7 linked regions of the Homo sapiens genome follow. The protein of the gene in region 7 purifies or fractionates together with the protein of the main gene of each other region. This does not show direct contact. Each region holds a gene or a part of one and is shown on either strand. Other genes may lie near its edges. The genes, in order: TMEM67, PLXNA2, LRP1B, ZNG1A, GALNT18, ATRN and NDP.

Region 1 (3,500 bases), on a different chromosome or scaffold from region 7:
TTATGTTGCCTAGGTTGGTCTTCAATTTCTAGGCTCAAGCAATTCTCTCGTCTTGGCCTCCCAAAGTGCTGCGATTATAGGCGTGAGCCACCGTGCCTTGGACTTGAATGTCTTCTGATTGAACTTTTCATAAATTTGGAAGGCTTTCCCCTGCAAATTACCTGAAAAAGCAGAATTTTATAACATGAATAACAACAAAAGAAACTAATTTGTCCAAAAAAGCATATTCGGGACAGCTTGACGAAAAAGCCCCAATTTACGGTTCTACTAATGTTTCTCAGGATATACCCTCAGCAACAGTATAATTTCTTAACAATATGTCTGGCAATAAAATTAGCAACAGTTTCTAAGTCCACCAGCAATTTATTGTTTCATTTTTTGGCACACTGTATAGAACCACATAAGAGAGAATTCATGACCTTTCTTATAATCAGTGGTTTATTAAATTATCATGTAGGTTAACTTATTTGTTGATTTCTGCTCAGGGAAAAGAGTGGTATGTATGGATGTCTTACCTTGGTTCACAAATATCTTATTATGTTGAAGATTTAGGTTTAACACAGGCACAGCCAAAATATATTGATGTTGATTTTCATCAGTATATTCAAGGTACACATCATAAAATATAGGAGTGGGAAAGTCAATTAAGATCTTAGAGATAGGAATCTCACACTGAAAAGTAAAATTAAAAATAAAAGCACATAAAACAGCAACTTAAAGTACTAAAAAGTAAAAAATAAAATAAAAGATCACAATTGAAAATTAGCAAGCATATTTATTATCTTCAGAGTGTTTTTCTAGTTTTGCAAAATGTCTTTATACTACCTTGTTTATATGCATTTTCATTTGTCTTCCAAAACATGAATACTATGATTATTTTATAAGGACCAAAACCACTAACAGTAAAGTACTGCTTTGAGAATTTTGAGAACTTCTTGAGCTTCAACTCAGATGAAGGAGGTATACCTTCATTCTCAATATTAAGGGTACATCAGTGAAAAGGTTTAAAACTACTGTCCTACGGGATAAATTCCCAATTTTTTCTCCTGCTGTACAATGATGTATATGATCTGGCTTCCATTAACCAAGCCAGGCTTATCTCTCATTACTCCCTATCAGTCTATGGTGGTCCATTCATACTAATCTACTTGTAGTTTCTAAATATGCCATACTACTGTATGTCTCTCTGTCATTACAAATGTGATTTCTGTCTGATATTTCCTTCCCCACTGTGTTCTTCTGGAAAACTCATATTCATTATACAAATCCAAGTATCACTTACTTTGTGAAGCCTTTCTATACTTCCCCAGGAATCAGTACCTTGTACATACCTATAGAATGACACTTATCACATTCTTTGCAATTCTTTGTCTATATAACTGTTTTGCCCACTAGTCTATGAAGGACTTGAGAGTTAGCCAGGTTCAAAGAAATAAAAATGCTTTTTAAACCTGATGATAGAACATTGGCTCCACAGTTTATGTGACACAAGTCTTTGAGTAAATTACCTAATTACACGGCATAATTTCCTCATCTGTGAAGCACAGATACTATGTATCTCATATAGTTATTTTATGAATCAAATGGGATAATAACGATAAAATGCTGAGCACACAGATAGGCATTACATAAGTGTTGATCTTTCTGGCCTATGTTAGAAGCACAATAACATTTATTTTAACAACAACAGCAACAACAACGTGTAAATCATTTCTGACAAAAGAAGTAAATTCATGTTCATGGTAGAAAATTTGGAAATTATAAAAAAGAAAAAAATAATTTCTAACCCCACTATCCAGAGGTAACCACTGTTAGTAGATTCTTCCAATCTACTTTCCATAATGGTATTTTTTGTTATGGTTTTGTTCTATGGTTGTGCGTGGAACTTTATCAAGATGTACTTTTACAGACTAATGAATTGATATGGTTTGGCTGTGTCCCCACCCAAATCTCATCTTGAACTGTAGTTCCCATAATCCCCATGTGTCATGGGAAGGACCCGGAGGGAGGTAATTGAATCATAGGGGCAGTTACCCTCATGCTGTTCTCATGATAGTGAGTGAGTTCTCATGAGATTGATGGTTTTATGAGGGGCTTCTCCCCCTTTTGCTCAGTACTTCTCTTCCTGTCACCACGTGAAAAAGGACATGTTTGCTTCCCTTCCACCATGATTGTAAGTTTCCTGAGGCCTCCTCAGCCATAGTGAACTGTGAGTCAATTAAACCTATTTCCTTTGTAAATTACCCAGTCTCGGATGTGTTTTTATTAGCAGCGTGAGAACGGACTAATACATGCATGTTTTTCAAGTATTGAATGGCTCATAATATTCCTTAGTAAAATAATGTAATTTCAAAATAGGTATCAAAGTAAGGAAAGTCAGAGAAGGAAGGAGAAAGAAAAGAATGGAAGAAGATGAAGGAATTATTTTTATTTGTTATGAGCGGGTAGAAGAAGGGAGTAACTTTTTATTAGTCATTTAAAAAAAGTAGTATTTTTACTTTATTTCAAAATGCTCAGAAGTAAGCATTACTTTTTAAGACCTATAAGCCTAGAAGCAGATAAACAATTTATTATGAAGATGTAATATTATATGATGTTTAAGACTCTAGGCCGGACGAGGTGGCTCACACCTGTAATCCCAGCACTTTGGGAGGCCAAGGCTGGTGGATCAGTTGAGGTCAGGAGTTTGAGACAAGCGTGGTCAACACAGCAAAACCCCATCTCTATGCAAAACACAAGAATTAGCTGGGTGTGGTGGTACATGCCTGTTGTCCCAGCTACTCAGGTGGTTGAGGCACGAGAATTGCTTGAACCCAGGAGGCAAGAGATTGCAGTGAGCTGAGATTGCACCACTGCACTCCAGCCTGGGCAACAGAGCGAGACTCTGTCTCAAAAAACAAAAAACTCTATAGATAACAAGGTGCTCTGTTTATGCCACTTAAATTAAGCTTTTATGTACCCAGGTAATAAAAAATTATATTAAATAGTGAAATTATTCTTCACTATTAAAAACATTTCCGGCCAGGCACGGTGGCTCATGCCTGTAATCTCAGCACTTCGGGAGGCTGAGGAGGGCAGATCATCTGAGGTGGGGAGTTCAAGATCAGCCTGATCAACATGGAGAAACCCTGTCTTTACTAAAAATACAAAAAATTAGCTGGGCGTGGTGGCACATGTCTGTAATTCCAGCTACTCGGGAGGCTGAGGCAGGAGAATCACTTGAACCTGGGAGGCGGAGGTTGTGGTGAACTGAGATTGCACCACTGCACTCCAGCCTGGGCAACAAGAGCAAAACTCCATCTCAAAAAAAAAAAAAAAAAAACCAAGAATAAAAAATTTCCAATCTCAAAAATTTAAGTATTATTCCAATTACTGCTGACATGATATTTTGAAAAATAAAGCTAAAATATAGACTAATATCGTTCAAACTTACATTTTGTTGGTAGGTTGTTCCAAATGAATAAGCAGCATTTAGCCTTGTCTCTGTGTCTGGACAAAGC
Region 2 (3,500 bases), on a different chromosome or scaffold from region 7:
GTGTGTTGAGCCGCTTCCAGTCACCCTCAATCTTGGTGGTGATGTCCTCATCTTGCAGCACGACCCGGGCGATCCGGCCTTGGCGCCACTCTGGGTGGAGGGGGTGGTGCAGGGAGCGGCGTGAGAGGGATGAGGGCTGTGAGCCAGTGTCTCCCGATTGCACCTTCTCTAGGGACCTGGCAACCCGGCCCCCTCAAGCTGGTACCAATAACAGAGGCTAGAGACATCTAGGGCTCCATGGGCCCAGGCAGCAGAGGAAACACGTAGACCTCCCCAGAGACAGCCACATCTGAACAGGCAGCGCTCAAAGCGGGAAGCATTTCACACGGGCCTCAGCTGGCCAGGACACAGTCATGCCCCTGCAAGGGTTGTGTGCATGGCAGCTTCCCTTCCTTCACCTCTCAACCCCTGCCCTCACACTCTGAGTCCAGGTTTCCTACCCAAGTCCATGTCCACTGCCCTCGGCCGCTGGGAATAGGGCACATTCTTATACACGGCATCAAGAATCTTCTCCTTGACCTGTGTGATGGTGTCACAGTTTAACACCTTCACTGGGATCTCTGGACTGTTCTCGTTGTCAGGGTTGACGCAGTTCAGGATCTACAAGTAGGGGACAGAGGGTGAGCAGGACAGGAGTTGAAGGAGTAGTTTGAGGGAGAGGGTCAGGACCTCAGAATCTTCTTTTTCCAAAGTTCACCCTCCTTATAGGGGAAATAAGGGTACTTTTCTGGTCTGTGACTCAGTTTCCCTCACCTTCATAACATCTGCCAAATGAGAGTCTGAGTCATTGTGTCCAATTCTTCTTTCTCAAAGCACCAGGACTCTACTTTCTAGCTCCTGGACAGCTTAGGGGAGACTATAGTCCTGGAATGAGGCACCCTCAGTGTTTAGAGATGGCTCTACATGTATCAGAGACTAGTCATGCACTTCCCCAAAGCCTCTATGTTAGGAACCAACATACATCTTTCTCATAATACCAATTACCCAATAACTAATGATGGGTGAACTTTTTTCTCCCCCAATATTATCTAGGATAAACCGAGGCATAGAGTGCTTGGGATGGGTGGGCGGGCCTGCCACCTTGCTCTTGGTACACTTAGTTGTCCTTTGGGCTCACCCCAGACCAGCCTCCCATCCTCTTTATTGACCCCCTAGACTGCTTTTATGGACAGAAGGCAGAGCAAGGGGCAGAAGTAGAAGATACACAGGCGGGCCCGGAGCTTCCGGCTTCCTCACCAGGGTCTTGTACTCGATCTGCTGCCGGATGAGCTTGTCCTCGCTCAGGGAGTAGCGGGCCTCGCCCGTGATGGCATCAATGGGGCCCTTCTCCATCTGCTGCTTGATGGCACAGTATAGCATGAAGAGTGGCTCCCCTGCGCACTCCTGTGGGCACAGACAGGGCAGGAGGTGTGGGCACGGCCTCCTCAGGTTTGTACGTTTTCCCTTTCCTCTCTCGGAGCGAGGCCAGTGGAAGGAAGGGCTTTAGCACAGCCAGTCCAGGTTCCTGCTCCCGAGGGAGGGGGTCCCCATGCAGCCCTGTGGCCAGGATCTAAGCAGCAGTGCCATCCTGCCCTGGACGCTAGGCCCCGTCTCACTCCCTTTCTCACCTTTAGGAACTTGTGCAGGAGGAAGGCGAACCAATTGGTCAGCATCTTTTCAGCCACAGACTCTGTCCTGGGGAAGGGACAAAGGGTAAGGGGCAGTCCTTCACAGAGGGGTCTCCGTGGTGGGGCCTGGGCTTGCCATGAGGTCTCCCAAGAGAACAATGGAGCATGGGAGAACGCAGGGCGGGAGTCAGGACACCTGGGTCCCAGCCCAGCTCACCCAGTAACTAGACTGTGACCTGGGGGTAGGGGTGGCTTCTTTCTGGGCCTCAATTTCCTATGAAAATGGAGAGGTTGGCCTTTTCAGCCCTGATGGTCCGTGGTGCTCTGAACTTTGGCTGCATCTGAGACAGGGTCTGTGGATAAAGGCACCTCACTATCCCACAGGGCTATAAAGAACCGGTTCTCCCAACTCACTTCTGGCCTCAGGGTGATAACTAGAGAGTTTCCCAGTCCCTCTGGGCTTTCTTGCATGTGTGAGTACCCTGTTTTGCCTATCTGGAAGGTGCCTGGTCCCTTCCCCTCCAAAAACACTCAAGGTTAGACTTCCTTGGGTTCAAATCCTGATTCTGCCATACGTTGGCTGTGTGACCTTGGGCAAGTCATTTAACCTCTCTGGTTTCAGTATTCCTATCACTAAATGGAGACAGTCATAATAACATCCAACCCCAGTGGTTGTTGTCAGGGTTGAATGAGTTAATATTTGTAAAGTGCTAAGAAAAGTGCCTGGCACCTGCTAAGCACTATCCATTAGCTGTCATTATTGCTGTCATGTGGGGTCTTGGATCCCAGCCCTCAGGTAGAGAGCAGTGCTTAAGTGTTTTGCCAACAGGGGATTTGCTCATGCAAGGGCTGGCCCCCCTCCCCTTCCCATCCCAGGGCTACAGATCTGGGGATTTGGGAAGGAACAAAGCGGCTGTGACAGACCCTCAGTGAAGGGGATGCCGGAGGGGTATTTTAACTCCCTGCACGTGGTGCAAATTATATCCTCTGGTTGCAGTAAATCCCAGGCATTTGCCAGGGCTGCTCAGCAATCTGGGCCTGGGAGAGAGTGACAATGGCAGAAAAAATTGTAGCTTTCTCCCGTGGCTCCTCCCAGCACCCTCTCCCTGCATTGTGCTTGAGATTAGCTCTAATTTAAATACAACAGTTCTTAATGAGAGTTTCTAATGCTCAGATTGGCAGGATGGGGGCTCAGTACTCATAAAGCAAAGCCATTCTTCCTCCCTCCTCACCCCACGTGGGGCCTGGAAGCCTGAGACCTTGCTAGAGGAAGGCTAAAGAGGAGGGGTGGTGAACGGAGGTGCAGCCCTCCAGCCCCTGCTGCCCAGAGGACTCCAAAGCTGTGCCCGGCTCCCCACGGCCTCTAGAGAGGGTGGGCTCAGGGGATACTGAGGTCTCCAACCCTCTCCCCTGCCAGGAAAAATGCAGTGGGCATGTGTAGTGGATGCTGTGATTCAGATCCAGGAAGCTGAGCTCAGAAGGCACGGCCTTCTAGGCTGTCCAAATCCCTAGCTCAGTGCTGCGCAATAGAACCTTCTGCGATAATGGGAATGTTCTCTATCTGTGCGGTCCCGTATGGTGGCCACTAGCTGCAATGTGGCAACCAAGCACTTAGAAAGCGGCTAGGTGCTAGGGCAATGGAGGAGCTGGATTTTACATTCTATTTCATTTTAATTTGTAGCAGCTACCTGTGGCTAGGGGCCGCTGTGCCGGACAGCACAGCTCTAGAGGCACCGGGAGGAAGAGACTGTGAGATAGGAATTATTTTTCTCATTTTGTCTAGGAGGAAACTAAACAACAGAGTGGTTACAACACTGGCCAGAAATCACAGAGCTAGCAGGAGGCAGAGCTGGGACTCCAGCTGAGATCCGAGCAAGGGTCTGAGCTCATCCA
Region 3 (3,500 bases), on a different chromosome or scaffold from region 7:
AGGAAACATCTTTGTAACTCTTAACAGCCAAAATTGGAAGATAAATCAGATTCACTTAGAATCAACTAATTTGTCATATAACAATGTCATATCATATCAAAGTATTGCTTGATAAGGATTAAAACTTAAAAGGAAGTATATCTTAAAGTGTCAAATTTTCTGAAAAGGGATTGAGAGGCCTAATGCTAGTCTGTGTTAAATTCTCGAGTATGATACAATGTGGAGACACATTTCCAAATAATTAAAGTTCATGCTGTTATAGTCATTTTAATGTATCTGTATAGAAAACCATCAAACAATGGCAATTAAATGTATATCAAAATTTTAATCTCCCCTCAAAGAAGAATGAACTGCGATTTATGTCTCTTCATATGCCACAAATAACATTAAAGTTTTGTTTTGAAGAGGTTGCTAATCTTTGAATTTGTTCTCTTTCTCTCTTCTCAAGCTCAAATTTAAACTGAGTGAGAGAGAAAAGAGAAAATGGAAAAGGTAAAGAAAGAATTTAAATGTGCTAAAACAATAAGAAAGAATGTGAATTGCAGAAAACAGAATTCAGGAGGAAAAATGGAGTTAAGAGAAAGCTGAAGATAAATTTAGGAAAAAGATGAATGGATGGATGGATGGATGGATGGATGGATGGATGGATTCTGCCATACATCAGAATCTGAATCAGTATTTCTTGAATAGGTTAAAATATCTTTAGACAAAATAATTTCTTAAAATGTTTTTATCTCATTATTAAAAACATTATATGAAAATATTTACAGTATAAAAATAATTTAAGGAAAGTGCCACCAGTGTGAATCTGAATATAATTAGACCTCTAAGAATGGAGAGAGACATGAGAATATTGCAGAAAAATTAAATATTAACTGTGCTAGAATTACAAATATGGAAGTGATTTTTTAAAAATGTAAGTGAAGGTAAAGGAAATTTTCTTAGAAAGGGTGCTAGATGAGTGATATGGTTAATGTATTCTTAGGACTTAGATGACACTTTCTAAATGCTGCTTGTTTTTCAAGGTGGAGGTATGCAGAAATACTTAGTTTGCAAATCTATTGGATCCAGGACATTAGTTTCTTGCCAGTTACCTTGTCAATTTCTTTTCTCAGCCCAGGGGATACCATAAAAATCAGCTCCATTTAAAGTCACCTGAACTGAACAGGACTTGGTCTTCTACAAGGATTATGATGTTGAGGGAACTTTATGTCTTTTCTCCATTCTATATATGGATCCAGTTTTTTATGTTTCTGCCATTAATTTTTGTATCTTAATGTGAAATGTGCAACTCTCCCTCCCTTTCCTTCAGCATTTTCCTGGTTATAGGAATTCTGTGTAGTAAAAAGTACCAATCAAACATACTGATAGATTTCTCTATCTTCTGTGGCTGTCTGTCAAAACAATTCTTGTACAAAGGAAACACTTGTCTTCATTCTAGATAGATGCATTCAAAGAAAGTAGAATTAATCCTAAAAGTTAAACATGCCTGTGCCAACATGATATCATTCGTCAAACTAAGTTAGTAGTAAGTGGAACCCAACTATACAATTGCCCCCAACCCCGTTTTTAATCTCTCTCTGTGTGTGTTTATGTGTGTCTGTATATCTGCTTTAAAATGGCTTTCCTTGGCACAAACGCCATTAAAAATACCACTCTGGCTTGAAAATTGGTGATGGTTTTTATGAATGAAACTTTTGCTTTTGAAAACTCCAGATAAACATGTCTATTTATCTGGACAAAAAAAAAAGTGAAATGAAAAAAATTTTAAGTTATTTTTTGACTCATAGCATATAATATTCTAATACATTTCGATATAACAAGTATTTTGTTTTAACAGAATCTGACTGTGTGGCAGAAACACGTGTCAAAATTATCTGCTTTTGAAATGAATATAATTATGGTATACCCAATGCTTATAATTTGAAGCAATACATTTAGTAGCAGAATGCTAAAGAAAATAAAGCCAAAGACTGAGTTCCATTATGAATTAATCAGAATATATGCTCAGCCAAACTCCTATGAGAAAATATCTATGTCTACCTTAGATAGTTTTAAAACTTTTCTTAAATTTCTTCAAGAAACCTGGCTTCCCCCATATAATCCAAGAATAATGACCAAAACTATCTTGATGCATAGAAAGGTCAAATAAGAAGGTTTTTCTTTTGGTTTTGGCAGAGGAGGGGGGAGAGTAGGGAAAATTAGCTAATCAAACAGAAAAATGTCAAGGGATGCTTTTTATTTTCTTCTGTGGAGTTGCTATACATTTTCACATGGATAGCTATTCCCAAATTTAACCTGTGTCACAAACCATTGTCTAGAGACATAGAAATGAAATTGCAACAGAGCAATCACAAATTGTATAGTCTATAGGCCTTGGGAACATTCTCCAGTTATTTTATTTTGGATGGAGATTTTTAAAACTTATTAGTTTTTTGGGATAAAATATTATTTAAACAGTAAATAAGACAAAAAATGAAAATATCTCTAAAAATAATTTGAGTTTTTAAAAGTTGGTTTTTGGACTAATTTCCATATGTGAGTTCCACTGGCACAGAATGAGTGTCTTTACCTCACTCACTCAATTTTGAAAAGTATTATACTTGCAATAGTATTGAATCTCTGTTCTGGCTCTTCAGTCCTCTCTCATTTGAATAACATGTCAATCTCACCAAGTACATATGAACCCTCTATTTTAGAGAAAGGAGAATGAAGGATTCAGGAGATTCTGCCATTCAGCACAACAAGTAAGCTTACATCTTCCAAATGTATATGCTGTTTTTTTTCTGTTTGTCTTCTATAATCTGCCCTCACAATTTTAAATCTATATTTTCCTCTTCATAAATGATCAGATGGCCTCCCTTTTTCCCCTGGCATAATTACAAGGCCAAGTTAGAAAGTATGTATTATGTATTGCTCTGTTCTAAATTGAGTGATATTAAAATGTAGAGTCAGTCTCACTCTCTCCATCTCTCTTTCTCTCCATCCTTTCTATTTAGGCTATCTCTATACAAGCCCACATATTTTGACTGAGCTCCCTGACTAAACCAATTGATGAAACTGACTAGTAACTAAATGGAAATCAAAACTATTAAATAATAGCCATACATCCTGTAAAAAAAAAAAGTAAGACTGGTCTTGCAGGAAAAGCCTAAATTGAGATTCTATGAAGAAACAATAACAACAACATATTTCCCTGAAAGAATTATGCAACATATTTCTAGTTTGCAGAGCAAATCATATGTGCTTTTGCTGTTGTGTCTCTCATACTAGGCAAATGAAATATTTTTGGTAGTAACTACATATTTATATAATGGGGTATTATACAAGTTTAAAACACTATTAGAAAATAAATAAGTATTCTGAATTCATTTGTACTCAAAGAGAATTTACTATATTGAAAGTGGAAATTTATTATTTTTCTTTTTGTCTTTACTTTTTAACTGAATTTGTATTTCTCCATTTTGTGAAACATTAAAAAAAACTTAAATATATTCCAA
Region 4 (3,500 bases), on a different chromosome or scaffold from region 7:
GGGAGAAAAGCACCCTGATTTGAGAGCCACTGATCAATTTTGTTCATTCATCTTTACTCCCCCTAAATACCTACATCCAAATTTTAAATAGATCTTTCTCATGTAGTCTGGCAAGTATTATATCAAAGATAAATACCAGTTTTAGAATAAAGCATTAATATACTCTTACATTTCAACTTAAGAGGCAAATATTAACAGTAGGATTTGTAAACTATTTATTGGAATAAAAATCAATGAATTTTTAAAAATTACAAAATGATTTATGTATGTTAGATATTTTACTGAGTGAAAAAATTCATGCTTTTTTAAATGACTTATTGTTTGGAGTAGTGATACAGTAGATTTAATTTCCCCCCTCATTAATTAAAATCATGTTTTAGCCAAGAAAGTGAACAAAATTCTTATTGGCAATTCAGTTGTTTCCCGTTTTGGAGACTGACACGCTCCAGTTCTAAGTTAAATAATTGTCATGGTAAAGTAATTTCCTTGAAAAGAACAGACATTGATTCAGCCCCTGTTACTCACAAATCCTATTTGAGTCAAATTGGAAAACTATTAAGTTTTTGGGAAAAAAATCAATAGGTATCAGGAAACCATTAGATCTTGTGGCCCTTGCTATATCTTGCATGAGTAATCACTGTAAACAGCTGACAGGTATTTCATTGTTGACACCGAGTGATGCTTGGGGGACCACATCTTGGCAGAGTAGGTGGACAGCTTTAGACGCTGGAATGAGTTTGATTATCCTTGTTTTTCTCCTACACTCATTCTTTTAGACAGCCCTGTCACTAACTGGGCCTGTGATGCTTTCAAAAATCAAATACTTTCCTTGCTGTCAGTTTTCTTTTTCTTGCGTTGTGGCATACTAATCAGGGTATGTGGTTTGGTACTGAACCAATTTCTGTCAAAAGCAAGTTTTAATTTATTATTTAGGAAAAATTTTTCCTAAGACCCAGGTTTTATACAGTACTAAATAAATAGTGTGAGGAATAATTAGTAATGCCATAGAGTATATAATTTTACTTCTAGTTCTACACAGATTACAAGTAAATTTTTTTTGGGCAAGTGATTTTGGAATTATCTATGTTTTGTTTTCCTTTTCCTTTAGAGTGATAATTCACTATTTATGATTGAATGATTATCATATTAAAGAGGTGAGAAAATAAAAATAAGTCTGATGTGCACAAAGCCATACTGCTCAAATTGTTTGATAATATCTGTTAATTAAATTATTATGGCATCGGTAGAAGAATGATGTTTTGTTTATATGTGGTTAGAATTGGTCTTTTTTAAAGGAAATAACAAGAGAGATGGAAATGGAATGGGTATAAATAGTAAAAGGTTCTATCACTATAATTCCCTTTTGCTATAAATAGTTAAAGCTTCTATCACTATAATTTCCATAAGAAGATATATGTGTTTACCTGTTAATTTTATCAGGGCAAATTAAAACATGGATAGAATCATGTTTCTCAGTGTGAAGAAATATTTTTATTTGATGAATATTATATATTTTCAGGTGCAGTGGCTTCTATGTTTTGGGTTGATGCTGAATTAGGGAGTGATATTTATCTTGATGGTAAGTTAAAAAACAGTTTTCTTTTATCTTTCTTGTTTTTTTTTTTTTTTCTGAGACAGAGTCTCACTTTGTTGCCCAGACTGGAGTGCATGGAGTGCAGTGGCATGATCTCGGCTCACTGCAACCTTTACCTCCTGGGTTCAAGTGATTCTCTTGCCTCAGCCTCCCGAGTAGCTGGGACTACAGGCGTGCACCATCGTACCTGGCTAATTTTTGGATTTTTAGTAGAGACGGGGTTTCGCCATGTTGGCCTGACTGGTCTTGAACCCCTGACTTCAGGTGATCCGCCAGCCTCGGCCTCCCAAAGTGCTGGGATTACAGGCGTGAGCCACCACACCCTGCCTCTTTTGTTTTTTAGTAAAATCTTTATGGTTAAGCTTATTGTTGTTGTTCATTCATATTATAACTTTAATTCCTTGCATTGTTGTTCTTTTCACACTTTAGTTTAATGATGAAATCTTTGTTCATATAGATTAAAAAACCCCAGACAGTGGTGGAACTCGATGTCACTCAACTTCCAATTTAGTGCTTCCACTAAGGTTTTCTTTAAAAAAAAAAATGCTTTGTAGGTTTTCTGTATCCTCTGTTGTTTGATTTATGCCCTTAATATAATGTTAGAGCCTTTTATTTTAATCCTCCAGGCAATATGAGGATCATATTTTTGCTTTTATTTTCTCTTGAAGATAAGAATTAAACACTCCTGTCTTACTTTATTTACCTGAACACTTTTGGGCAATGATATGCCTTCATTTAAAATATATTAGAAACTTTCTTAGTTAAGCGACTATGTTTTCTCCCTTTCTCAGTCGAAATTTTCTTACTTTTTCAAAAGTAATAATCATTAAGAAATTTAAGAATTATTAAGCTGGGCCCCATCATTGAGCTCTAATATATGTGGCGGGTAACTGGTTGAATTCCTTAGGCATAATTAAACTCATTCTTTTGTTATCAGCATATATTCAGAGATTGCAAAATGAATTGGTAGTTTGGAAACTTAGGCATATGTTATGTAGAACATTTATGAGTTGGATTTGGATTTGGTGAGAGATGTTAGGAATGATACCTTAAGATGTCTCATTCTTTAGGCAATAATTTAAATCTTAAGAAAAGTCTTGATTTTGATTATGTGAAAATAAACTAGAAATAACCTGTCTTATGTACTTATCACATTTGACTATGTTATGAAATTTGACTTATATTTTGGATTGTAAGCTTTTTCAGTGCCAAGGAAATCTTATTTTCTTATTTATTTAATTTAAAATTTTTATTTGTTTTATATCGTTTCTAGTGCCTTAAAATAGTGCTAGCCACTCAGGAAATGCATTGACTTATTACTGGAATTTAATTAAATGGCAGCACTGGCAAGAGAAAAAAACAGTACATTGTTTTATTGAGTAGTATTTGTGAACTGAAATAGGTTAGTTTTAATTTTCATTTTGAAGTATGGTTGTACAAATATTAATAAACATTCTTTTTAAAAAGTGATTAAAATGTTTTTTCCTTTGTAGGTATCATAACTATTGTGGATTCAAAATATGGATTAAAAGTAAGTTGAAAGATTGCTATGAGTGGGTCATTATTGAGAGCTGGGAATATGGGGATTGATTGTTTAATTTTCTTTATGTTTGTATCTGAAATTTTCTTTAACAAAAACCTTTCTCAAAAAGATATCCTGAACAATAGGTGAAATTTGTGTTTTAATTATTAGTTTGTGTTAAATATTTCTTTTCTATTACTCTGAGTTTGATTTGGTGATAAAATTTGGAATTATAATTTGTAATAAGCATATGGGGTTAGGGTAGAGTTTGGTATGTATAACTCTTCACAAGGATTCAACCCCAATATTGGTAAGTTTTTCTGTTCCATAGAAGAAGCTGAGCTTGATAAAGCATCTGAGATCTTATTTTTCTTGTTAAATTAC
Region 5 (3,500 bases), on a different chromosome or scaffold from region 7:
TTCCCTGGGGAATGCAGATACAGGAGACTTCTGGGGCAGAGACTGACACCCTGGAGCCACTGTTTCTCTTCCTTTCAAATCACTGCATTTTATTCTAAATGGCTTCACCCTCACAGACCTGCAGGCATCCTGGGAAGCTAATCCACCACTCCTAAAGCAGACTGAGACCCTGCTGTGGTGGAGGTAACTGAACCCAGGCCTTCGAGGTAGTCTCTCTGGGAAAAATCCCCCTTCCGGATGCATGTCTCTAAGAGAAGTTCCCTAGCCTCTCTGAGCCTCCGATTCCATATCTGTAACATAGGATCTATTCTAACCTCACACGGACTAAATTAAAGCACTTGAGAGCCTCTGGGACATAACTGGCACTCAAAAGGCCATTTAAAAAGGTAAAAAGATGCAATTGTGCACTAAGTCTAGAAGATCCTCTCTTTAAATACGTGATGATTCAGAAACATCAGGCTGGCAGAGTGGGGCCTTGGCATTTGCCTCTGCATTCCTAGTGTTGGACAGGGCAGGGCACGCTGGAAAAATGCTTTCAGGACACACAGGAAGGGACCTTCCTCAAACTGACAGTTCAAGCCAGGTAATGAACAGAATCTGAAACAGTTACTCTGAGATGAGCACAGGCCACCTCAGTGGTTTATTATTAACCGGCTAGGGTATTAAGTGGATTCTATCAGCATGAAAGAGTTATCGATTTACACCTTGCCTCATTCCTGAAAGGATTAGAAATAGCTTATGAGAAAATTTAAAATACATAGAGAACCATAAATAGATAAATGTCTGGACAGACCTAAAGATTGCAACAAATTGGAATGCATGTGCAGAACCAAGGTCCTCTCTCAATTGTTCTTAAAGCAGACATGAAAGCTTGCCTTTGAGTTTCCTGTTGGTCAAAGTGGAAATGAACACACATGGTCTTAGAAACAAAATGTACAGTTCTCATGTGAAAATGTCATATTAATTGATTCCCTGGGGATAGCAAGTCTTTCTTTGACTGGCAGTCAGTTTGAAAGAAATTTCTCACGTGGATTTTCTTAATGGGGTCACCTGGCGACTTAGGGAACAGCGATCACAAAGACATCCCTTTAGAATACACCAGAAGATATTGCTGGGCTCTTTTTATGACTTACACCATGTGTGGGCAAAGCACTCAAGTATAGCTTGAAAGAAAAGGGAGCTCGGATGGGCAAGATACATTTGTATAAATCACAGCTTTCTGTGGAGCTGTCTTCATCTGGGAATAAAACCAGGAATGTTCTTCCAAAAATCTTCCATAGAAGTTATTTCCCTCAACCAAGTTTTTGATAAAAATTGGGTGATAGAAAATTTGAGGTTGAGATGACATTGTCTGGCAAGGACCTGGAATGCAGGCTTGCTGATTGAGACTGGACCAGTACAGTTAGAGATGAGCAGAACAGAAACAGTTACTGTCAATGCAGTCTTCTGCAGGAATGCTCATTGCATGGGGGCATATTTCCTTCCAACAGCATTCATCAGGCCTGGGAGCAGAAAACAGCTACACCAGTTCTGAGCTCAACAGTGGACAATAAGAGGGGTGAAAACTAGCCACTGAGTCTAGCTTCTCTGGGTGGATCCTGGCTCTACCGCCCAGAGCCTTTGGCAGGGCCATTCACCTCTCTCAGTCTTGCTCTCCTCCTCTTGTAAAACAGGGATGAGACATGAGCGGTCAACAGGTTGCGATGATGATCAAATGAGCCAATGCGTGTAAAAGACCCTTGTACATAGCAGACTGTCAGCAAATGTTTAACAACACAAAATTGTGGCAGGGGCCGAGCAGAGTAGGTATCAGGTAACTTCAGGAAAGTTAGGTGGTTTTATCCCGTTTTAAGTATGAGTATACATTTTTTCTTCTGGCAAGGAAAAATGTGATCTTAAGTAATAATCCCTGACTTTCAATTAAATTTTTCATACCCTTTCTCCCTAATATAATATAAAACAACATGAGCTTCTAATCTCTTGCACTCCAAAAACTGTACCCTAGGCCACCTTCTGGTGCCTTCTGTTTTATAACGGGCAGGACTTCGCAGGGAACATAAAGACACCCACCGTATCATCAATATAGACAGAAATAGGCCAGGCGCAGTGGCTCATGCCTGTAATCCCAGCACTTTGGGAGGCCGAGGCGGGTAGATCACGAGGTCAGGAGTTCAAGACCAGCCTGGCCAACATGATGAAACCCTGTCCCTAGTAAAAAATACAAAAATCAGCCAGGTGCAGTGGCAGGTGCCTGTTATCCCACCTACTTGGGAGGCTGAGGCAGGAGAATCACTTGAACCCAGGGGCCAGAGGTTTCATTGAGCCGAGATCACGCCATTGCCCTCCAGCCTGGGTGACAGAGTGAGACTCCGTCTCAAAAACAAAAACAAACACAGACAGAAATAAAAACTAGTGGGGACAGCTTTTGGAGGAGTCCTGAACCTTAAAAGCCGAGACCACACAAGGGAGTCATTCATGAGTCTAGGAAGATGGCAGCAAAGGCAGGAAAGAACTTGGGACCTTTGAAATGCAGTATGAAGTCACTTTTGTCTGAGTCTTACAGAATAACACTCAAATATCATCAAGGTATACACTGTCCTGTGGGGTCCGATCTTGCCTCTCAGCCCCTCCACCCCTACTGCCGGGGGCTGCTGGCTCACTTCCCACTTCTAGTGACTTTGAACCTTCTCTGTGTTCATGAACTTTGCATATGGGTGTCCATTCCCCAACCTAGCCATCTTCTACTCGCCTTCAAAAACAAGTGAAAATGCTGCCCTCTGAAAAGCATTTCCCCGCTTTCAATGCAGTTTCTGCCTGCATGGTAGAATAATGTTCCTATTCCAATGATTTTGTCTGTCTTCACTAGACTCCAGGCTTTTGGCAGTGGGAACCAAATCTTCATCACTCCGGATCCCCAACCTGGAGCACAGTGGTTGGCGCCCAGCAGACGTCTCACAGTGATGTGTGAAAATGGGTCACTTTGAGGCTGTGAATGGATTCTGAGATCTTCAGAGCCTGTGGCAGTGACTGAAGATCAGACTGCAGTTCCTTTCGACCCTGCCCACCCCTGTCATCCCCACGATGGGGCTCAAGTTGGAGAATAAGCATTGGACCAGTAGGCGGTCCCTAGCCTGGAGGTCAAAGCGGAGAGACCCACAGGTAAAGGTTTGCTTTACCTGATTGGCGCTGTGGAGTTCTCCAGCTTCCACCAGGCCTTGGGGGGATTTAGGTAGCGGCACCACAGCTCCCAGTCAAAGCCCTGGGCAGCCAGCGGGTACTCTTCTATCTCAAAGTTGTCATATTTGATGTTATCAAAGGATGGCGAGATGATCCGCTTCCGGTTCTCCTTGATGCGGGTGAGTACAGGTTCAGCCCTGGGCAGAGAGGAGACAGCCAGAGAGGGTAACCATTTCCAAGGTGGAAAAATCCAGAGTAGCATCTCCTGAAGGTCCTTCCCCAGCAGAAAGAGGAAGGAAGGCCTGCCCATCTCCTCTGATGGA
Region 6 (3,500 bases), on a different chromosome or scaffold from region 7:
TAAGTGGGAAACAAGTATCATAGTAAGTTAATGGCCAATTTCCAGACACAAGTATTTCAAAAAGTACAACTATAGTTTCATTTCAGTTTTGGAAATATGATTGTATTAACAAGAAAAACCAGTGTAAGATTTCTGTTCAATCATAACACTAGGTACTCACTTCTGTATTTCTTAAGATAAAAATAACCTACAAATGTATTAAATCACTTAATCACATTTATATGATCAAAACTGTTCTGATCATAAACACACACTCTCCTTTTTCTCCTGCGTACATACCTGTCCTCTATACTGCGGTAAATAAAAAGCATCTGCCCATCTTGGGAACCTTTCATCGAGGTAAAGTCTATGGTAATTTGTTACAGAAGCCCTAACTGACTAACCCTAGTCAGCTGGCTCTACCTCCCTCCCTCTGTATGTTAGGAATTGTTCTACTGTAAGTGGAAGGAAATCCAACTCTAACCGGCTTAAGAAAAACATGGACTGCAGTACTTCACAAACCAAAAACTACACCTTCAGGCAAGTTTTGATCCAGAGATTCAGAAAGTTATCAGGTCTCCGGCTCCATTTCTCTGCCATCCTCCATCTTCTGGGAGTTGTTCTGACCTGAGGTGAATTCCTTACAGCAGCAACGCTAACTCTTAACAGTTCTAGGCATTATGGCCTCGCCACACAGAAAAGAAGGCAACACATGTCCTTCTAAACGCCCACAGAGGAAAGGGATCTCCGACAAAAGTCCTGAGATTCACTCTGATTGAGTCCATTAAAATCAATCATAAACCCATTTCAAAACAATCAGCACGGCCAGAAACTGGAATGCCCTGAGGGCTTATCCTAGGTCAAGCATAAACCCAGAAGCTGGAGATTGTTGGGAAGGGACAAAAAGAGGCCATTATAACCTTACAACCTCACCCCCTTCCTTCCATTACACCCCTCACAAGTTATGTTCCAACAACAGGCACCTACATTCAGTTCTCCAGGTGCTGTGGGTTGTACTGTGTTCCCCAAAAAGATATGTCAAAGTCCTAACCCTGGGTCCCTGTGAATGTGACCTTATTTGGAAACAGGGTCTTGGCAGATGCAACAAAGTTACGATGATGTCATACTCGTTCATCCACTATGACTGGTACCCTTAAGAGAAAAGACAGAGACACAAAGGGAGGGAGAGTATCACATGAGATTGAAGGGACGGAGGCAGAGGCTGAAGTGATGCATCTACAAGCCAAAATGCCAAGGACTGCTGGCAACTCCAGAAGCGAAGAGAAAGGCATGGAACAGATCCTCCCTGAGAGTCTTCAGAGAGATCGTGGCCCTGCCAGTACCTTGATTGCAGGCTTCTAGTCCCCAGAACTATGAAAGAATAAATTTCTGTTGTTTTATGCCATGAGTTTGTGGCACTTCACTGTAACAGCCCTTGGAAATTAATACACTAAGTATGATAATCCATAATTCTTTGCCTTTGCACATCAACTCTTCATTCCTTCTGGAATGTCTTTCTCCCCCAGATGGTCTACTCACACTAAACCTCTCAGACCTGCCCAAATGTCCTCTCTTCTGTGATGTCTTCCACCAGAACCCCCAAAAGAGTTAAGTCAATCACATCTTAGTCCAGCACCACATATTGCCTGTATTTTTATTATGAAATTCTAATTGCTGTGTACGTAGCTGTCTTCCCTTCATAGTTATAACTTCTCTTAGGGGAAAGCAAGGCCTGATTCTTACACACCTTCATATCCTCAAGGAAGGGCACAGTACCTAACACACAATATTCAGCAGATATTTATGAAGTGAATTAGCAGATGACTCATTTCAAAAGAAGATAATAGGGGTCAGGTGCAGTGGCTCATGCCTGTAATCCCAGCACTTTGGGAGGTCAAGACGAGATGATCTCTTGGGGACAGGAGTTCCAGATTGGCCTGGGCAACATAGTGAGACCTCATCTCTACAAAAAATTTAAAAATTGGCTGGGCACACTGGCCTGTGATCCCAGCCACTTGGGAGGCTGAGGTGGCAGGATCACTTGAGCCCAGGAGCACTGCCCTCCAGCCTAGATGACAGAATAAGACCTTGTCTCTCAAAAAAAAAAAAAAAAAAAAGGGTATGAATTATAGATTATAGAGAACTGAAGGTGGGCCTTGGTAAGTAGAGATGAAAAGAAAGAATGGGGGAGCAGTGAGGAGGGAGGTGCTGAATTTAGCAAACACAGAAAAACTACGAAGTAGAAAGATTTGGTTAGGAAAAAAAGGGATGTGAAAGGAATGGGATCCTTCTGCTGAGGATCATTTTAGAGGTAATAAAAGAAGCAAAATAAGAGACACATGTTTTTGTTTTTTATTACACTTTAAGTTCTGGGATATATGTGCAGAACGTGCAGATTTGTTACACAGACATACACGTGCCACAGTGGTTTACTGCACCCATCAACCCATACTCTACATTAGCTATTTCTCCTAATGCTATCCCTCCCCTATCCCCCTACCCACCGAAAGCCCCAGTGTGTGATGTTCCCCTCCCTGCTCCCACTTACGAGTGAGAACATGCGGTGTTTGGTTTTCTGTTCCTGTGTTAGTTTGCTAAGAATGATGGTTTCCAGCTTCATCCATGTCCCTGCAAAGAACATGAACTCACCATTTTTTATGGCTGCACAGTATTCCACGGTGTATATGTGCCACATTTTCTTTATCCAGTCTATCACTGATGGGCTGGATAGCCCATCAGTGGTTGGTTCCAAGTCTTTGCTATTGTGAATAGTGCTGCAATAAACATACGTGTGCATAGAGACACATGTTTTTTAGAAGACTGATATGACAAAGTGTGAAGCAGACTCTGCAGGTGTAAGAAAACAGTAAAAGTGCAACAGAAGCAGGTCAGCAATGAGGTGAAGGGTTAGGTACATTAGAATGGCAGCAGAAGAAATGGAAAGAAACAAATTTATACAGTGTGAGAGCAGAAAAAAACAAACAGGTAGAAAGAGCCAAAGATTACTGCTAAGTTTTGACCTTTGGTTAGCTAAATTTGGATTTAGCTAAAACAAATAAGGAAGTACAAAGAAAAAGACTATTTTTTTCAATGAGGATAGAAGTTTGGTGTTATACATGATTCAGTATGAGGTGACAATAAAAGATGCCCACCAAACAGTGGATGACAGAGAAGTTCAGGAGCAATATAAGGACAGAAGACATATATGGCAGTCATGTGGGTAAAGACGACTTTTTTAAAAGTCATAAGAAGTAAATTACAGAATTTTATTCCTTCATTCAACAGATATTTACTGCTCACTATGCTCCAGGCCCCTGCCCTCATGGAACTTACATTGCACTGGGGAAAGCAGATCAGCCTAAACTGGACTTGTGAACTATGCTCCAGGCCCCTGCCCTCATGGAACTTACATTGTACTGGGGAAAGCAGATCAGCCTAAACTGGACTTGTGAACTATGCTCCAGGCCCCTGCCCTCATGGAACTTACATTGCACTGGGGAAAGCAGATCAGCCTAAACTGG
Region 7 (4,048 bases):
TAAATTTATTAATGAATAACAAATAGTTTGATACAGAGTTGAACAAGACAGTTTCAGCATCAACAATTACATGAAGCTCCCAAGAAAAATTTCTTTTTGAGTTTTATAATGTATTATTTTTTCCACGAAATATATATATTTTAAATTCTCAGTTTAATTCTTCATCAGTAGTATTAATAAAACAAATTATTCTGGGTCTGATTTACCTGACATAAAATAATTATTAAATGTTCTTTGTATTTTCCTCCAAAATCCCTGACGGTTTTCTGTGTTAATTTTAAGCTTTCAAAGGGCAAGAATTATGAAATATTTGCCTTTGTAGTCCCACAGCTCATAACACAGCATGATTCAGCTGCAGGTATTTAACCCACACACATAGTTACCTTTGTCACTTTTCTACTAGTTGTTGTGTAATGGGTTAGCTTTATCTATTAGTTTCTCCTTCATATAGCTCAAGGAGTCAAGGAATACACGTTCTCATTGTTTCTAAATCAGACCTAAAGTTTTATTCTAAATGATGCAGATGAAGGGGCTTATTAAAGTGCCATTGTGAATTTAATCATGTATATGCTGCTAAAAATCATTTAATGGATGAACAACCCGGAAAAAAAGAACTCTCACCACCCACACACATCGTGATAAAATAGGGCAGCGTTTTGCACTTGCTTTAACAGCATCGCCTGAGAAAAAAATTTCTGGTTCCCATCTTTCCCCTCTCTTACTTAAAATTTCAACTTCATCACAGTCAGCTGCCGAATCGTTCAACAGAATGCCACACTGCCTTTGTATTTCCAAAACTATACGTCTCTATTGCGGACGGCACATCTTTATGGCAGCCACATGCTTGAAAAAGAATTAAATTCAGAATATTCATTTGGCCTCTTATTAGTTCCATAATACCATTAAAAAAGAAAGAAAGAAAGAAACTTCCTCGCCCTTGTTCTGCTACGCTGTTCCCATCGTAAGATGCTCCGTGGAAGGGAGCCGAGCGGTGGGCAGAGGCTGAGTCCCCGATAACGAGCGCCTCACATTTCCGTGGCATTCCCATTTGCTAGTGCGCTGCTGCGGCCGCACGCCTGATTGATATATGACTGCAATGGCACTTTTCCATTTGACATTCTCTCTCTCTCTCTCCCTCTCTCTCTCTCCCTCTCTCTCTCCCTCTCTCTCTCTCCCTGTGTCGCTTAAACAACAGTCCTAACTTTTGTGTGTTGCAAATATAAAAGGCAAGCCATGTGACAGAGGGACAGAAGAACAAAAGCATTTGGAAGTAACAGGACCTCTTTCTAGCTCTCAGAAAAGTCTGAGAAGAAAGGAGCCCTGCGTTCCCCTAAGGTAAGCAGGAAAACAAGCGCTGCCGGCTTGCCTAGGAAATCGCTTCTTTCCAAACCGAGCATTTCATCCTCCTCTCAGACAAAGAGACAACCTTTAAATACCACTTAAATTTGCATTACTTTAATTTGCATTAATCTGTAGCATGCTAGCATTGTGTTTCTTAAATGAACGGGTCTTTGAAGTCTGTGACAGAGCAGGGAGCCTCCTAGAAAAGCTTGAAAATATCTTTTGGTTTGACTTAAAGAGATTTTTCTTTTCAAACTCTCTGCGTAGTTAGATGTAACTTTGTGATGGTTCTTATAGTTGACCCCGTGAAAGGGGGCTGCGAAGCAGCAACTTGCCAACATGGATTCATGGAGCCCAGTATCTTCCCCAGCACCCTCATCCCACTTACAATGGGGGCACTATTAACGCAGGCAAGACTGCGAGTTTAAAAGCGCACTGTTTACTTTTATTACTACTTATGTATGCTGCTGATCTCCTGCCAGGGCTCTGCCGGAGTGCTCAGAATGACTTCAAACAATAGGCAACATTTATTTCTAGCTTTCTGTGTCACGCTTTGCAGGAATCCTGCTCCCTTGCACTCTTCTTTCAGCGTGCAGGTCTTCGCTTCCATAGATGCATTGGGGAGCACCGGGAGGAGATGAGGATGGATTTACTGTATGATTTTGATTGGGCAAAAAGTCCGAGGAAATGCATGCTGTTTGCCTTGGACTTATTGCAGGGGGTTATTTTTAGTCATCAGCTCGTCCCTGCAGCATGATGTTCAAGGAGTGACCGGGAAAGGATGCTCCCACCAGCACAGAGACCAGGACCTGTAGGAATGACTCCTACCTGCGGGATATTCCGAGGTTTCTTTCAAACTTTGGAATACAAGTTCTCTCTTTAAATGAACAATTGAGCTGTAGGAGGCCTGGGCATAACTCTTTCTTGGGGGACGGGAAGTTTGATTGTGTACAGAATGTTAATGACTCAGAACGCCCAGTAACTGAGGCTCATTGTAATAGACAAACCCAGATAAGCCTCCATGAGAGGCAGACTCCCATCTTTACTGAGATTCAGGTGCGGGAAAGGAAGCTATTTGGCAAGATGGGAGTCCCTTGTACAGTTCTTTGTAACTCATTAATAACAGATATGGCTGCTGTGAAACATGTCTCTTTTCATTTCTAATATTAGTGTATTTTAATTACAAGGAGCTGGCATTGGCAAATTACCCCAACACATAAGATTAAATACCAGGTGCATTTGAAAACAGAGAGATGACTGAAATGGGGAGTTGCTGTGGGTGTCAACCAAATACAGCGGGGACGGCACAATGCTTCTCAACTGAGCGTTTAAACCAGATGCAAATATCTGCTCATTTTCTTCTCATCAGTCTTACTAATTCAAGGAAACTTTATGGTCCTGTTTGCCAGTTTTCATTGCAAATTGGTACACAGTTTATGCAAAACTTTTCTGATTTTCTCTGATAACCAGCCCAATAAGCATCGCTGAATGAAAATCTGATATTTGAATAGGTTAATTTACAACTTTGGGGTATTCATTAGTCAAGAAAGCCATAAAAGACACTATGGATTCCATTGCTGTAAAATTTTATTGTAATTTTTTTTTAAAAAAACTGCGGTTAGCAAAGCATTTAGCTGAATCAAAACAATTTTCTTAGACTATTATTCAGATCATTACATGAGAGTATTTGAACACAAAATGCAATGTTTTGCATCATTTATTTTAAAATACATTTGGTTCAGGTAACGGGAGAACTGGCTGAGGCCTTCTTACGACTGTGTACCAAGCAGCTGACACCCACAGATGGAAATGTGCCTGTGGAGTTTTCAATCTTAATTCGAGTTCCAATGACACTGTCAAGGGAAAAATAAATCATTTTTCAATACATTTAACAATTTCCAACTCATTTATTTTCCTGGGCCCTTGAAAAATGTGGTGAGTTTCTTGGAATTATAGCCACCAATGGTGGCCAGCAATCTTTATTTTAAGAACTCACAATTCAAGTACTATTATTCTCTGGTTAATTATTTATTTCATCAATTTTTAAATAAATATTTATTAAGCATTTTCTAGATGCCCAGTGCTATGCTAGTCCCGATGGATGCAAAGGTGAATGAGACATTGTCCCATACTCTAATTCTCAGTCCATATGCCATCTCTAGTTAGATTTTGGAACTGAAATGGGCATTGCCAATGGGTAAAGTGGGCAATAACTTTCCTGTTATAAAGAATTATTTAAAACAGCTACTGGTTTCTAGATTTACTTGAAATGATTCTCACTCATCAGTGGGTTTTCTTTCCATTTATGATTAAGGGATTCCCCTTTGGCCTTTTTCACCAGATCCTGGGTACACGTCATTTGCACAGCTAACACGGCTAGATCTTTCCAGCCTGGGTAGAAGAATCCCGGAAAAAGACAGTAGTTTATCCTTTCTCTGCTCTCCTGAGCACCCTGTGGAAAGGACCATATGCTGTCTCTATTGGGGATGGGTGTGAGTCGCCTACTCAGTAGCTAACATCAGGGCCACTTGATGAATCATCGAATTAGAAACATGCATATGGAGGAAGATGCAGTCACTATCCCTCACCACTTACTTGTCCCACCCCCAGTATCAAAACAAATGACCTCTGGGCCTGGCCTAAATTCAAGAGGCCCCTGGGAAGAAGCTGTTGGAAACTCTTCCCCAAACCCAGGTCTCCATCATAG

The links.
Region 1: the proteins of NDP (region 7) and TMEM67 purify together in Homo sapiens (affinity purification with mass spectrometry; one large-scale study listed by BioGRID and IntAct). This does not show direct contact.
Region 2: the proteins of NDP (region 7) and PLXNA2 purify together in Homo sapiens (affinity purification with mass spectrometry; one large-scale study listed by BioGRID and IntAct). This does not show direct contact.
Region 3: the proteins of NDP (region 7) and LRP1B purify together in Homo sapiens (affinity purification with mass spectrometry; one large-scale study listed by BioGRID and IntAct). This does not show direct contact.
Region 4: the proteins of NDP (region 7) and ZNG1A purify together in Homo sapiens (affinity purification with mass spectrometry; one large-scale study listed by BioGRID and IntAct). This does not show direct contact.
Region 5: the proteins of NDP (region 7) and GALNT18 purify together in Homo sapiens (affinity purification with mass spectrometry; one large-scale study listed by BioGRID and IntAct). This does not show direct contact.
Region 6: the proteins of NDP (region 7) and ATRN purify together in Homo sapiens (affinity purification with mass spectrometry; one large-scale study listed by BioGRID and IntAct). This does not show direct contact.

What each region holds. Positions count from the first base shown.
Region 1 is NC_000008.11:93,782,394-93,785,893, reverse strand, and holds part of TMEM67 (meckelin isoform 1 precursor), read right to left. Parts: intron 3,500-3,500; coding exon 3,434-3,499; intron 673-3,433; coding exon 516-672; intron 1-515. UniProt on the Homo sapiens protein: Required for ciliary structure and function. Part of the tectonic-like complex which is required for tissue-specific ciliogenesis and may regulate ciliary membrane composition.
Region 2 is NC_000001.11:208,038,385-208,041,884, forward strand, and holds part of PLXNA2 (plexin-A2 precursor), read right to left. Parts: intron 1,675-3,500; coding exon 1,608-1,674; intron 1,384-1,607; coding exon 1,237-1,383; intron 601-1,236; coding exon 441-600; intron 91-440; coding exon 1-90. UniProt on the Homo sapiens protein: Coreceptor for SEMA3A and SEMA6A. Necessary for signaling by SEMA6A and class 3 semaphorins and subsequent remodeling of the cytoskeleton. Plays a role in axon guidance, invasive growth and cell migration.
Region 3 is NC_000002.12:142,124,517-142,128,016, reverse strand, and holds part of LRP1B (low-density lipoprotein receptor-related protein 1B precursor), read left to right. Parts: intron 1-3,500. UniProt on the Homo sapiens protein: Potential cell surface proteins that bind and internalize ligands in the process of receptor-mediated endocytosis.
Region 4 is NC_000009.12:162,057-165,556, reverse strand, and holds part of ZNG1A (zinc-regulated GTPase metalloprotein activator 1A), read left to right. Parts: intron 1-1,108; exon of another isoform or gene 1,109-1,154; intron 1,155-1,519; coding exon 1,520-1,579; intron 1,580-3,087; coding exon 3,088-3,125; intron 3,126-3,500. UniProt on the Homo sapiens protein: Zinc chaperone that directly transfers zinc cofactor to target metalloproteins, thereby activating them.
Region 5 is NC_000011.10:11,374,006-11,377,505, forward strand, and holds part of GALNT18 (polypeptide N-acetylgalactosaminyltransferase 18), read right to left. Parts: intron 3,375-3,500; coding exon 3,177-3,374; intron 1-3,176. UniProt on the Homo sapiens protein: Catalyzes the initial reaction in O-linked oligosaccharide biosynthesis, the transfer of an N-acetyl-D-galactosamine (GalNAc) residue from UDP-GalNAc to a serine or threonine residue on the protein receptor.
Region 6 is NC_000020.11:3,477,518-3,481,017, reverse strand, and holds part of ATRN (attractin isoform 1 preproprotein), read right to left. Parts: intron 1-3,500. UniProt on the Homo sapiens protein: Involved in the initial immune cell clustering during inflammatory response and may regulate chemotactic activity of chemokines. May play a role in melanocortin signaling pathways that regulate energy homeostasis and hair color.
Region 7 is NC_000023.11:43,970,591-43,974,638, reverse strand, and holds the start of NDP (norrin precursor), read left to right. Parts: upstream 1-1,248; 5' UTR 1,249-1,335; intron 1,336-3,086; exon of another isoform or gene 3,087-3,194; intron 3,195-4,048. UniProt on the Homo sapiens protein: Activates the canonical Wnt signaling pathway through FZD4 and LRP5 coreceptor.